Linked DNA regions of Homo sapiens. The protein of the gene in region 2 purifies or fractionates together with the protein of the main gene of each other region. This does not show direct contact. Each region holds a gene or a part of one and is shown on either strand. Other genes may lie near its edges.

Region 1 (7,032 bases), on a different chromosome or scaffold from region 2:
CCATTACTTTTTCAACACTTGTCTAGTTGCTTGCTGTTTTAGTTTATATAAACTAAGAAATTTTACTTCAGTGGTTAGTCTTACTGCAGCATTTTTGATGGTCAATTAGTTGATTTCCATTTGCTTTTGGTAAGGTTATGGTTAAATTTAAAAATTTTAAAAATGTCACTGGCCTTTTTTTTTTTTTTTTAGAGCATCTGTGTGAATTACTTTTTAACTTAAATTCCAGTTAGCCTCTTAGGGATTTTTAGGAAAAAAAAATCTGCTGTCGTGATTTATACCTAACGAAGGAGTAGTGTCATGAGTGTGTAAAAAACGACATACAAAGGGGAATAGAACAGAGTAGAGAAGGTGAATAACTACTAAATCTGCAAGGAACACAAGGTAGTGTGGTGTTGATATTTTCTGTTAGGAGATATACCCATTTGTTCCTTTAGATCATATGCCTTATATGAGAAGGTGACGTTACATAAATATGGTAGCTGAGTCTGGGTCTCAGCTAGGAAATGCTGATTGGATAAAAAATTTGACTTTTTTTTTTTTTTTGAGATGGAGTCTCACTCTGTCGCCCAGGCTGGAGTGCAGTGGCACGATCTTGGCCACTTCCCAGGTTCAAGTGATTCTCCTGCCTCAGCTGCCTGAGTAGCTGGGACTATAGGTGAGCACTACCATGCCCAGCTAATTTTTCTCTTTCTTTTTTCTTTTTTTTTTTTTTTAAGATGGAGTCTCTCTCTGCCTCCCAGGCTGGAATGCAGTGGTGCAATCTCGGCTTACTCCACCTCCCGGGTTCAAGTGATTCTCCTGCCTCAGCTCCTGAGTAGCTGGAACTACAGGTGCCCACCACCACTCCCGGCTAATATTTGAATTTTTAGTAGAGACAGGGTTTCACCTTGTTGGTCAGGCTGGTCTCCAACCCTGGACCTCGAGTGATCCACCCACCTCGGCCTCCAAAAGTGCTGGGATTACAGGCGTGAGCCACTGCGCCTGGCGAGGACTGTTTTTTTTTTTTTTGTTTTTTGTTTTGAGACGGAGTCTCGTTCTGTCCCTGGGCTAGAGTGCAGTGGCCGGATCTCCGCTTACTGCAAGCTCCGCCTCCCGGGTTCACGCCATTCTCCTGCCTCAGCCTCCCGAGTAGCTGGGACTACAGGCGCCCACCACCAAGCCCAACTAATTTTTTTGCATTTTTAGTAGGGACGGGGTTTCACCGTGTTAGCCAGGATGGTCTCCATCTCCTGACCTCGTGATCTGCCCGCCTCGGCCTCCCAAAGAGCTGCGATTACAGGCGTGAGCCACCGCGCCGAGCCTGGACTGTTTTTTAATCAAAGACACTTTTATCTTTAAAATGAACATACGGTTATTACAATAGAAATCTGAGCAGATCCTCTGATGGCTTCCTCTGGTGATTCCCGTTTCCTGGAGTCTCTCTAAAACATAGTTATAGAAGAAATGAATTGTATATATTTTGAATCTATTTAATTCCTCTTCTTTCAGTTGAGGAGATGGGGTTGGAGAGGTAGGCAGTTTTCATATCATGTAGAGCCTTTCACACCTTCAAGACATTTTGTATTTTTCTTTGGCAGTACTTACCACTATCATGATTAAGTAATTATTTGTATGATCATTAAATGAATGTTTGTCTTGATAGACTAAGTTCTATGTGTTTAGGAGCCACACTGCCATCACCTGCAGTACAGTGTTTATATAAATAAATGGAGCTCATGGCAATCTTAAGTTTTGAAACCATTTTGTGTGAAAATTTGTTCTTACATATTTAATATAATAGATGTCAGAGAATATCATTTCTTAAAAATGTTAATCATTTGCACAAAAGGTCCCTATCCCTTTAGAGAGAATGACACGTAAGAGGCTGAATTAATTAGGAGATCATCAAGGAGTTGTTTTCTTTATTTGTTGGCTACAAGCATAGGGGTTTTTGTCTGGATTTGTTCACAGGTTTATTCCTAGAAACAGGAATAGTGCCTGTTACAGAAATATATGTTGAATCAATGAATCAATAAAAGTGAATGACACTCACAACTCAGTAATAAGAAAACAAACAACCTAATTAAAAAATGAGCAAAAGATTTGACCAGACACTTCACCAAAACAGATATAGGATGGCAAAAGACACACATGAAAAGGTGGTTAACATCATTAGTCATTAGGAAAATGAAATTTTAAACCACAATGAGATACTGCTACACATCTGTTAGAATCATTAAAATAAAAATAGCTGACAAAACCAAGTGTTGGTGAAGTTGTAAGGCAACTAAAACTCTCATATGTTGCTGGTGGTACAGCCCACTTTGGAAATCAGTTTGCCAATTTCTTATAAAATTAAACATGTGCTTAAACTAAATACTGCATGTTCTCACTTATAAGTGGGAGCTAAATGATGGGAACACATGGACACTAAGAGGGGAACAGCTGATATTGGAGCTTACTTGAGGGTGGAGGGTGGGAGGAAGGAGAGGATCAGAAAAAATAACTATTGGGTACTAGGCATAGTACCTCGGTGACAAAACATTCTGTACCACAAATCCCCATGACACGAGTTTACCTATATAACAAACCAGTACATGTACCTCTGAACCTAAAATAAAAATTAAAAAAAAATAACTAAATGAAACTATAAATGTATATGTGGGTCAGTACCAAGAAGTTTTTTTCACAAACCCCTAAGTATCTGATTTCCACTCAAGTCTTTTAAACTTGTTTGATGTTGCTGAGTAGCAGAGGTCTTTTATTTTCCACTTTTTAACGTACCTAAAAAGCATGAACCCTGCATTTCAATGGACTGTATTGTACGCTTTTTTGCTATAAAACTTTTTCATCAAACACAATTACATTGTTCAATTTTGTTGTAAACTTAACATAAGATGCACTGTTGATATGCTTTCTGATATGTTTGATAAGAGTGATAAAATAAAGCTTAAGAATTAAAAAAAAATTAAAAGTAAGCATATACTTAACATCTGTCCTAGAAACCTGCTCCTAGAAATTTGCCTAAAGGAAAATGAAACATATGTATACACACACACACACACACACACACAAAGACCTGTACACAGATGTTTGTGAAGGCTTTATTCATAATTTCTAAAAAATTGAAAGCAACCCAAATACTCATTAACTAGTGAATAGATAAATAAATGGCTAAATAAACTATGATACATCCACACAATGAAATATCACTCAGCAAGAAAAAAGAGCAAACTACTAATACAAGCAGCAACGTGGATGAATCTCAGATACATTATGGTTCAGTGAAAGAAGCCAGACTCAAATGGCTACATACTATGTGATTCCATTTATGTGACACTCTAGAAAGACAAAACTGTGAGATGGAAATCAGATAAACACGGATAAGGGTTCATCAACCAACAGGGCTGGAACTAGGGAAAGTGAATGGACTACCAAGAAGGGGAGCTGTTTGGAATGATGGGAATGTTCTGTATTTTGACTGTGACAGTGGTTATCCAACCATATCCATTTGTCAAAATTCATAGAACTGTACACTAGAAAAGGCTGAATTTTACTGTATGTAGAAAATACCTTAATAAACCTGATAAAGAAACAAAGTATTAATGAGGTTTTTTTCTATGAGTACTTGAGCAAGCAGATTGTTAGCTTGCTGCTTTGAGAATCAGGAACAAACCCATGCTTTACCAAGGGACCAAAGAAACTCATGAGACTCACCCTCCTACTTATTCCCACTGTTCTTTTTCTTTAAATGCTTACCCTGATAAACTGGTAATGAAGAACTTAAACATTCTTTATCTCTTCAAAAAAATTAATGAAAAGATAGAAAGATATGTTGTAGGCTTTTGAGTTTCATGTGGCAAGGTCTTTACTTTTAGCAAAAACCATTTATTAAGTGATATCTGCCATTTAGCACTGGGTAAGACATTACTTTCTTAGCACGTCAGGCAGGACTAATAGATGCAGCACAAGCCTCGTTTTCTACCTCAAGGAGTTGCCATGAGAATCAGTAAAGGGTGTGTTTGTGTAAGCACTGTGTAAATTGCTAAATAAATGCAGGTGGTTTCATTGCCAAATACTTAACAAGCAAATAACTTGGATTTCAGTTTATAACAAGTTTATAACAAGCAAATAAACTTGGATTTCAGTATCAAAGAACAACCCACAAACATGGCATGGGTGAAACATATAGGAATGAATTACTTGGCTTACATCTATGTTTGGCCCCATTGCCTTTTTGCCTGGTGGGGAGAATCCGATGTCCAAGAGCTTTGCGCATAGCATGGAGGAATGGCAGGAATGAAATTTTACAGACTGGAGAGTGGGAGGAGACTCGGTGGAAAGACAGCTATTGGCAAAACTTGGAGTTAGGGGCTCTGAAGGAGTGAATCCTCAACAGTTTGTGTGTTTGTAGATGTACAAGTGTTTGTATAGTCTCTATGCTTTTATGAGGTAGGCTCTCTTGTTCTAAATGTAGGTGACCATTGTAGCAAATGTGCTGTTCCCCACACCAACCCTTTCTTCTGATACCTCCTCTTCCAGTGGTTTTGCACTGTAGTTCTTGATACATTTTTGTTCCATGTAACTGCTTTTATCTCACGAATATTGTCATGAACTCACTGATATCAATGGTAAAGTTTTAGATGAGAAATAATCTATTTCTCATCTTCTTTTAGGTACATACACACACAATTAGAAATCTTATCTTTTTCCCTCTTAGATTGCTATGTCATATGTCATAAAGAGGTACTCCAAGTTGAGCTCAACAAATATTTATTTGTGTGACTTTATTTGAAAATTTATTTACAGAGTATTACATAATGATAAAATGAATTCTACTGGCAACATGACCTTGGCCAGATCCCTTAATTAGCATCCCTGTTTCCTTACTTGCAAAATGCAGGTATTAATAATAGGACCAGTTTTGCTCTTGTCACTATATAGTTGTAAGAATCACAATAGCTTAGGAAAGCTTGCAGTCAGCTCTGAAGTTCTGCCCAAATACAAGACAGTGGTATTATTAATGGAATCCTTCTCATTATTTGTACTATTCCCAGAAGGGGGTACACTGATAAATTCTTATGTTTCCAGGGAGAGTCACACCGGGACAGCTCATGTCCTATATTCAGCTCTTCAAGAACAACCTCAAAGCTCTAATGAATCATTGTGGCCTCCTCCAGCTTGGACTGGCCACAGCTCAAACGTTGAAACACCCACAGACTGCCAAGTGGGACAACTTTCTGGCTTTTGAAAGGCTCCTTCTTCAGGTATGTTGCTATGGGAACCTCGTGGGATCTTAATAATTAATGTTTTGACTTCCAGAGAAAAACCTTGACATTTATTATAGCCTTAGTAATAAATCATATTGTTGACATGTGCCCTGCTTCATATTCTCTAAGTGCCCCCTAGTTAAAATTCAAGTAGAAACTTTTTTCACACCTGTTTAAAAAAAAATTTTGACAGTAACATCTTTGGCTTCTCATTTAATACCAAGGATGTTTTTTGAGCATTGGACTAACCTCTGGACACCTCTTTCAATTTTATGCCATTTGGACCTTTCTTGCTCTTCATGGCATCTTTATTTGATCCTTGCTACTTTTTCTGTAACATATTATCGCTATTTACATTTCTTCTGACATTACCTAGTTTCTAGTCCTTAAGCAACATATAGCATGTGTCTTAAAATGGCGTTTAGTAAAAAATGAAGGAAGTGATCTCCATTTGTAGTGTTTATACAGATATTTGTATGTGGGATAGGAACTTTTCATGACTGATGAAATATTTTCATGGGAAACTTTTAAAAAAATATGTAGTATGTGTTTTTTAAAATTATGAAGTATTTTTAAAAATTATACAGTACTTTAAAAAGGACAGAGGATTGTGAAGCATAAATGTACATAAAATGGCAAGTATCTGTAAACTTTCCACATAGACTCAATATGATTTATCATTATTTTCATATTTATCATGGATCCTTTTTCATTAAAGAAATAAAACTAGAGATAAAGTTGAAGCATTTTTGATACTATATAACCATCTCTAATCTGATTTTCCTTTTTCTTTCCCTAGAGATAATTACAAGCTCAATTCACTGTTTTTATATTTTTATTAGATGTTTGCTTTCTCATAAATAATATAGAGCATTTATGCTATGGGTTTTAATTTTACATAAGTGATATTATACTATAAATATCCCTAAATAGCTTGCTTTTTTCTCTCAAGGTTCTATTTTTTTTTAATTATACTTTAAGTTTTAGGGTACATGTGCACAACGTGCAGGTTAGTTACATATGTATACATGTGCCACGTTGATGTGCTGCACCCATTAACTCACGTCATTTAACATTAGGTATATCTCCTAATGCTATCCCTCTCCCCTTCCCCCCACCCCACAACAGGCCCCGGTATGTGATGTTCCCCTTCCTGTGTCCATGTATTCTCATTTTTCAATTCCCACCTATGAGTGAGAACATGCGGTGTTTGGTTTTTTGTCCTTGCGATAGTTTGCTGAGAATGATGGTTTCCAGCTTCATCCATGTCCTTACAAAGGACATGAGCTCATCCTTTTTTATGGCTGCATAGTGTTCCATGGTGTGTATGTGCCACATTTTCTTAATCCAGTCTATCATTGTTGGACATTTGGGTTGGTTCCAAGTCTTTGCTATTGTGAATAGTGCTGCAATAAACATACGTGTGCATGTGTCTTTATAGCGGCATGATTTCTAATCCTTTGGGTATATACCCAGTAATGGGATGGCTGGGTCAAATGGTATTTCTAGTTCTAGATCCCTGAGGAATTGCCACACCAACTTCCACAATGGTTGCACTAGTTTACAGTGCCAACAGTGTAAAAGTGTTCCTATTTCTCCACATCCTTTCCAGCACCTGTTGTTTCCTGACTTTTTAATGATCGCCATTCTAACTGGTGTGAGATGGTATCTCATTGTGGTTTTGATTTGCATTTCTCCGATGGCCAGTGATGATGACCATTTTTTCATGTGTCTTATGGCTGCATAAATGTCTTCTTTTGAGAAGTGTCTGTTCATATCC
Region 2 (7,032 bases):
ATTAAGAGAACTATTTGAAATACACTGAATTTAGTTAACCAAATTAAGGCTGAGTGAGGTGGCTTGCACCTGTAATCCCAGAGCTTTGGGAGGCTGAGGTGGGAGGACTGTTTGAGGCCAGAAGTTTGAGACCTGGGCAACATATTAAAAAAATTAGCTGGGTGGGGTGGTACGAGCCCAGGAGCTGAAGATTGCAGCAAGCAGTGATTGCACCACTGCATTCCAGCCTGGGCGAGCGAGACACTGTCTCAAAACAAAACAAGAAGGAAAACAAAAGTTGTTCCCATTATTTTATGTGAAGTTAATAAATTTTGAGCACAAAGATTAAAGGCATAAGCCTCAAAAACTAATCAGAAATATTAGTGGTCTATTTAACTCTAACAATGAAAAATCTATCAGTAGAAAAAGAATAGAAAGTATATGCATGGTTGTTTAGTCTTTTATTTGTCCTAGATAGTTGTCTGGAACTTTAATGCATATCTTGTCCAAATTCAAGAAACACAGAGCATTACAGGATTATAACCTGAAATATATTTTACAAATTGATTTATAACTGAAGCTGAACCTGACTAAAAAGTCACTATGATGTAGAATTGCAGGCCTGTCATGGGTTCTTTTTCTCTTAATATGCAACAGAGGCACTTTGGATCTCAATATGCAACACGGGCACTTTGGATCCTCTTTCCTAAGTAAAAAAAATATCTGGAAATAGTATGATGATTATAATGATTACAGATAAAACAATGTCAACATACTTTCAATACAGTTTATGACAATACAACTGTCAAATGATTTCTGAGTTGACCTAAAAATATTATACAAATCACAGACTAAAGCAAAACTCATTCTGCTTTTTATTTCTGTCTTTCAAATTCATTAAATAATAGGTTCCTTTAGTTTGGCTTATTTTGCCTAGTTCAACTTGAATATAATTTATATTATCAGAACTCTTTATAAAAGTATTGAGCCTAAACAATTCTGTTGTTCTGGTCATCTGTCAAATAGATATCTATGCCAACTACGGGTTTCAGAACAGTGTTAAATTTTACATTGACAAAATGTCATCAACCCACCAAACTCTCTTACCTTGGCTACTTGTGTTACTGCACTAGCTGCTAACGCTGCATTTGCAATATCTTCCAGTTTACTTCTTGAAATAGCAGAAATAAAATTTAAATAATATGATTCATATAGTTGATTTCGAAGATCCTATCAATACAATGAAAACTTTATTCTTATAGGATAAAGAAGACCATGAATACATATGTTTCAACTACTATAAGGCAAAGTTATATTTAAAAGACAGGATATTTAAATGACAATCAAAAAAAGTATCCCAAGAGAAAAAACCTTTGAAGTAGTACTGGTTATCTGGTTATCAGATGTAACTAAAATGTTTCTTAATAAAGTAATAAAATTATATTATCAACAAAATCTCATTAATTACAATACAGTACAAACTGCTTTCATACAGCCTATCTGCATTCTTCTTAAAATATCCAGATATGGTCCACTAATATAGTAAAATGCTTGTTATATTTGGCAGACACGATCTTCAACTGTTCTGGACATGTGATGACACAACAAATCCTTCATTGCACACAGACAAGTTATAAATCCAATTACCAATTCTAGAGGTATTTCTTTTCAACTGCTCAAAAGTAGTGCAATTTAAGTTATGCAAATTCTTAAGTCAAATTTACTTATCTTCTTATACTTTTAGCAAATAGATATCGAAATAACCATACTTCCTTAAATCTAAGATGTCATTGACTGTAACAAGAACCATCATTTTATGTAACACTAAGAATTAATGATGCCAATAAAATTTTGTGGCATGATCAATTTTAAGATGCACCTGATTTTAGCGATGTTAAAATGTGAAACATTGAGGGGTTGGAGCCTTTGTGAGGAAGGTGATCAGGGTAGTGGTTCAATCAAGGTCAAGAAATTATTTATGTATGAGGATTGAGAAATAAGTAATATGTTCACGATACTGGGAACCATGTTTTTCACTCTGAGAAAGGAGTTACAAATTTGTAAAGAGAAAAGGGAAACGCTAGAGTGAATCCTGTGTTGCTGAGCTGAAACAGTTTTGGAGGTTATCTGTTTATCTGGATAGGTGAGGGGAAGAGAGGGAGAATTGTAGAAATAAATACAGATATAAAAGTGTATGTATAAATACATAATTTCCTAACTTTTTCCATTGAGAGGACCTAAGAACAGTGACACTCTAGTCACAATGAATATACCTAATGCCTAGATCCTGATTCCTAAATACCATTCTTTACAGAAAGCAACCAGAGCTCCTCAGAAAAATGTCTGAATCCTGGGCTGAGACAGAGAAAGTAAAATCCTAGGCTATATTGGAACATCTTATTGTGCCAGAAAGTAAGGAAGTGGTCAAAGAATGATGCATACATTTCAAAAGGACATATAAGTTCAGCAAGGTTGCAGGATACAAGATAAATACATAAAAATCAATTGAATTTTTATACAATTGCAATGAAGAATCCTAAAAATGGAATTAAGAATTCCATTCATAATAAGCATTAAACACATGAAAGAATAAATTTAACAAAAGAAGCACAAAACTTATGACAAGCTAATCGTAATTTGGAAATTCAAGAAAAGCCAAAACAGTCTGAAAAAAAGTACAAAGTTGGAGGACACAATTTCTCAATTTCAAAACTTGCTATCAAGCAAGAGATATCAACACTGTGTGGTACAGGCATAAGGAAAGACATAGATATCAATGCAATAGAACTGAGAGTTCAGAAATCAAACAAGATATCTGTGGTCAGCTGATTTTTGACAAGGCTGCCAAGACCATTCACTAGGGAAAGAATAGTCTCTTTAATAAATTACGCTGGGACAACTGGATAGCCACATGCAAAAGAATAAAGTTGGACACCTACATCCCACCATATATAAAAATAATGCAAAGGGGAATCAAGACCTACAGGTAAGAGCCAAAACTATAAAATTCTTAGAAGAAAACACAAGAATCTGGAATGGTTTCCTAAATATGACACCAAAAGCATAAGCAACTCAAGAAAAAAAAAAACCGATAAACTGGGCTTCATCAAAATCAAAAATGTTTGTGCTTCAAAGGACATTATCCAGAGAATGAAAAGATAACCCATAGACTGGGAGAAAATATTTACAAATCATAAACTTGTGAGTGTCTAGTATCCAAAACAGAAAAAGAATTCTATCAACTCAACAATAAAAAGACAACCCAATTAAAAACTGGGTGAATGATCTGAATAGATATTTCTAGAAAGACATACAAATGGCCAATAAGCATGTTAAAAGATGCTTAATATCATTAATTACAGAAATGCAAATCAAAACTATAATGAGATGCCACTTCAAACCTATTAGGATGGCTACAATAAAAATATCGGATAGTAAGTGTTCAGCAAGGATCTGGAGAAATCAGAACCCTCACACACTACTGGTGGGAATATAAAATGGTGCAACCACACTTCGCAAAACAGTCTATTACTAAAAAGGTAAACATAGAGTTATCATTTGACCATGCAATTTTATTCCTATGTGTTTACGGCCACAAGAGAATTGAAAACATGTCCACAGAGAAACCTGCACATGAATATTTATGGCAACATTATTAATAGCCAAAAGGTAGAAACAATCCAAATGTCCATCAAGTGGTAAAAGGATGAATAAAATTTCGTACATCCATACAATGGAATATATTCAGCCACGAAAAGGAATAAGGTACCAATTCATGCTACAATATGGATGAACCTTGGAAACATTATGCTAAGAGAAATCAGCCATATACAAAAGACCACATATTATAGGATTTCATTCATATGTAATGGTCAGAGTAGGCAAATATACAGAAACAGAAGGTAGCTTAGGGATGGAAGAGGATGGGGGAGGGTTGAGGATGTGATAAATGGTACCAGGTTTCTTTTTGAGGTAATGACAATGTTCTAAAATTGACTGTGGTGATGGTTGCAAAACTCTGTGACTATATTAAAAACCAATGAACCATACACTTGTGCTCCTTAAATGTGTGAATTGTATGGTATGTAAATTATAATTTCAATAAAGGTGTTATTTAAATAATGAAAGAAGAAGAGATTGCAAGTGGTACCTCTTTCATGAATAGCATACTTGAGTTTACGCAGGGTAAAAGAGAAAGCTGGGCATCATAAAGCTACACAGGACACAAAATTTGCAAACGTCACTAACAATTTAAATAGCAATTTGATTCAACAGTCAATAACAAAGATGTTGTGACTTGTGGAAGACACTGTTACTTACCTATCCAATATCTACTTTTCTCCTTTTCCTTGCTAAAAGAATCTTGCTAGATTTTCTTTGGGGTGACTCATCTAAATATTGACTTTTGCAGCCACCCTTGTAACTGATTCTACCTAGTGAGAAATAAATAAAGGTCTTCTGGGAGTTTCTGGAAAGGCTTAAATTCCTGATCAAAATCAACAGTCAGGGCTGGCACAGTCCATGTCCCTCTTCTTGTTGATGTGAACATAGATTTGATGCCTACAGGCGCAGCGACAAGCAAGACAAGGAAAACCAACAAACTAAAGACGAATGATCAGCGACAGAAGGAGCCTGGGTCTTTGATTACCTTATAGTACTTCTGCACCAGTGTGGACTTCCTAATCTCACCCTTATTTTAGAAAAGGAAAACCCTATATAAGTTAGAAAGGCAATATACCTAGGCTTTCTGTTTGTTAAAGCCAGACTCAGACTTTACCAGTACAGTGGTTGCCCTTATTTGCAGGGGTTATTTTCCAAGACTCCAGTGGATGCCTGAAACCAGGTAGTACTGAACCGTATATGTTTTTTCCTATACATACATATTTATGATAAAACTTAATTTATAATTTATAAATTGGGCACGGTAAATGATTAGCAACAATAGCTAGAAATAAAATAGAGCAATTATAAAATATATTCTGTAATGAAATATATTACAGAAAATATATTCTGTAATGAAAGTTATATGAATGTGGTCTCTCAAAATACTGTAATATATTCAGTACCTGGTTAACTGTGGATAACTGAAACTGTGGAAAGTGAAACTGTGGACATGAGAGGACTACTGTATAATACTTCTTCAGCCAAAAGTTTTAAGTCTTTCAGGCTATTTGGAATTCAAAGATAGTCTCAAAAATCAGAGTGAGAAAGTAGGCATAGGAATTTCTGATTTTTCACCCTGGACATCTAGGAATTTTTCTTGAAAAAAAAATCCATTTCCAAATTCAGGAGTCCAGAAAATAAGAACCCATATTACCTGGCACATTCTGTCAATATTTTCTTCAGTTGGCATTACAAAGTATACTGCAGGAACATCTGGAATAGGATCTCGATCAGAGTGTAAAAGCCTAGAAGACATAAGGAACTAAAACTTATTTTTTTATTCACTTATTTAAAACAATATTCCTCAAAATGGGAGTTCACTAGCTCAAGGACAGTAACCAGTGCTCTAAAAGCTCTTGTTGCAATTAATCAGTGAGTTAACCTATCTTTCTCCCATGTCAGTGTTGTTATTATTTATTAGCATTAGTAAGACCCTAATTTCTTGTTAGTCTTCATTTGTTCTATTCTGCTCACACTTTTAGCACTGCTTATGGTCAGACATTCTTTTCTACCAACACTCTCCTTGAATGAGAACTAAAACATATTCAGAATCAATCTTATTCCCACTTTTCATAGAAATGTGGTGGTCAGAGGGGAAGGGTGAATGTGAGGAAAGTGTGGCTCTCTGAGGGGAAAATCAGAAAGCTAGGGGACGCAATGAAAAAAATTTTAGAAGCAATTCTTTAGAAGCTATAAAAAAATTTAACCAAACATGAAATCAAATATATTTTTTAAATGAAAGGTATATAAATGTTTCCTTAAAAATTAAAGACAATCTATTTTTGTCTATTTATTGTTTCATAAGAGAATGTAAGCATCTTATAGATTAAGTCATTTTACAGTTTTCTCCTTTTACAATTTAGGAACAATTTCCATACAAATATCCCAACATCAAACCATGCTTATATGAGGAATATTCACCTCTCTCTAGTCATCCTTCTATAATCAAGGAGAGAGAGGAAAGAGGCACATGCTGCCAGTGAGTCTGTGTTTAATAACTGTTGCCACTGATATCAAGAATGATAATGTGATGGCTGCCATAGGTTGTGGTCTTTTTCACACTGCTTGTCCAACTGTCTAATGGGCTACAACCACCATTTCATACTGTGGAAACTTGTAATTACTGTTTCCTACAAATTAGCCTAAACCAGCTTGCAGGGTATAAAGTAACTGATACAGTATTCTCCAGCAAATAGAGGAGAATGGTTGGAGGCAAAGTACACAAGAGTTCACCATGGTAGCTGTGTAATATTTCCATGCTCTGGTGGCAAGTAGCAAGTTAGGCAGAGATTACGAGACTCTCAAACTGGTAGACTATCCTATTACCCCTGAATGAAGTACTGAGTAAGGCCTCACTTCTGTTAGTTACTGTTACTGAGCCATTACAGTTCAGTAGATAAACAGCACAGAATTAGTGGTCAAGCAATGTGGCCATGGCTCTGTTATTAACTGGTTGTACAAATGTGAGACAATCACTTAAGCCTTCTAAACTTCAGTCCTTCCATTAGTAAATAAAGGAGTTAAACACTTAGTACAGAGACAATGGCACTCAATGTTTATTAATAAACCACAATTTCCAAGGATAGCATGAAGTTAAACTTTACTTCAGTCCATAAAAATTAACACATTATCAAAGCAAACCTGCTTATTTCAGTCTGACATAAAAATGAAAGGAAAACTCATCAAATACCGTATTTCATGAAACCCAAGGTGGTAACAATTTTAAAACATAATTTTTAAAATATATTTTATATACTACTGAGAAATAAAAATGCTGCCAGTTATGACATATCATCAGTGATAAGATAGATCCTAATTTCAGAAATGTAAAAAAGGACATTTGGAATTGACAAACTATAACAGTCTATTAACAAATGCTCATTATACAAC

Evidence for each region. The genes of interacting proteins can lie anywhere in the genome.
Region 1: the proteins of SCFD1 (region 2) and SCFD2 purify together in Homo sapiens (affinity purification with mass spectrometry; 2 studies listed by BioGRID and IntAct, with this or other methods). This does not show direct contact.

Annotation. Positions count from the first base shown.
Region 1 is NC_000004.12:53,272,043-53,279,074, reverse strand, and holds part of SCFD2 (sec1 family domain-containing protein 2), read left to right. Parts: intron 1-5,073; coding exon 5,074-5,249; intron 5,250-7,032. UniProt on the Homo sapiens protein: May be involved in protein transport.
Region 2 is NC_000014.9:30,632,302-30,639,333, reverse strand, and holds part of SCFD1 (sec1 family domain-containing protein 1), read right to left. Parts: intron 5,388-7,032; coding exon 5,297-5,387; intron 1,210-5,296; coding exon 1,087-1,209; intron 1-1,086. UniProt on the Homo sapiens protein: Plays a role in SNARE-pin assembly and Golgi-to-ER retrograde transport via its interaction with COG4. Involved in vesicular transport between the endoplasmic reticulum and the Golgi.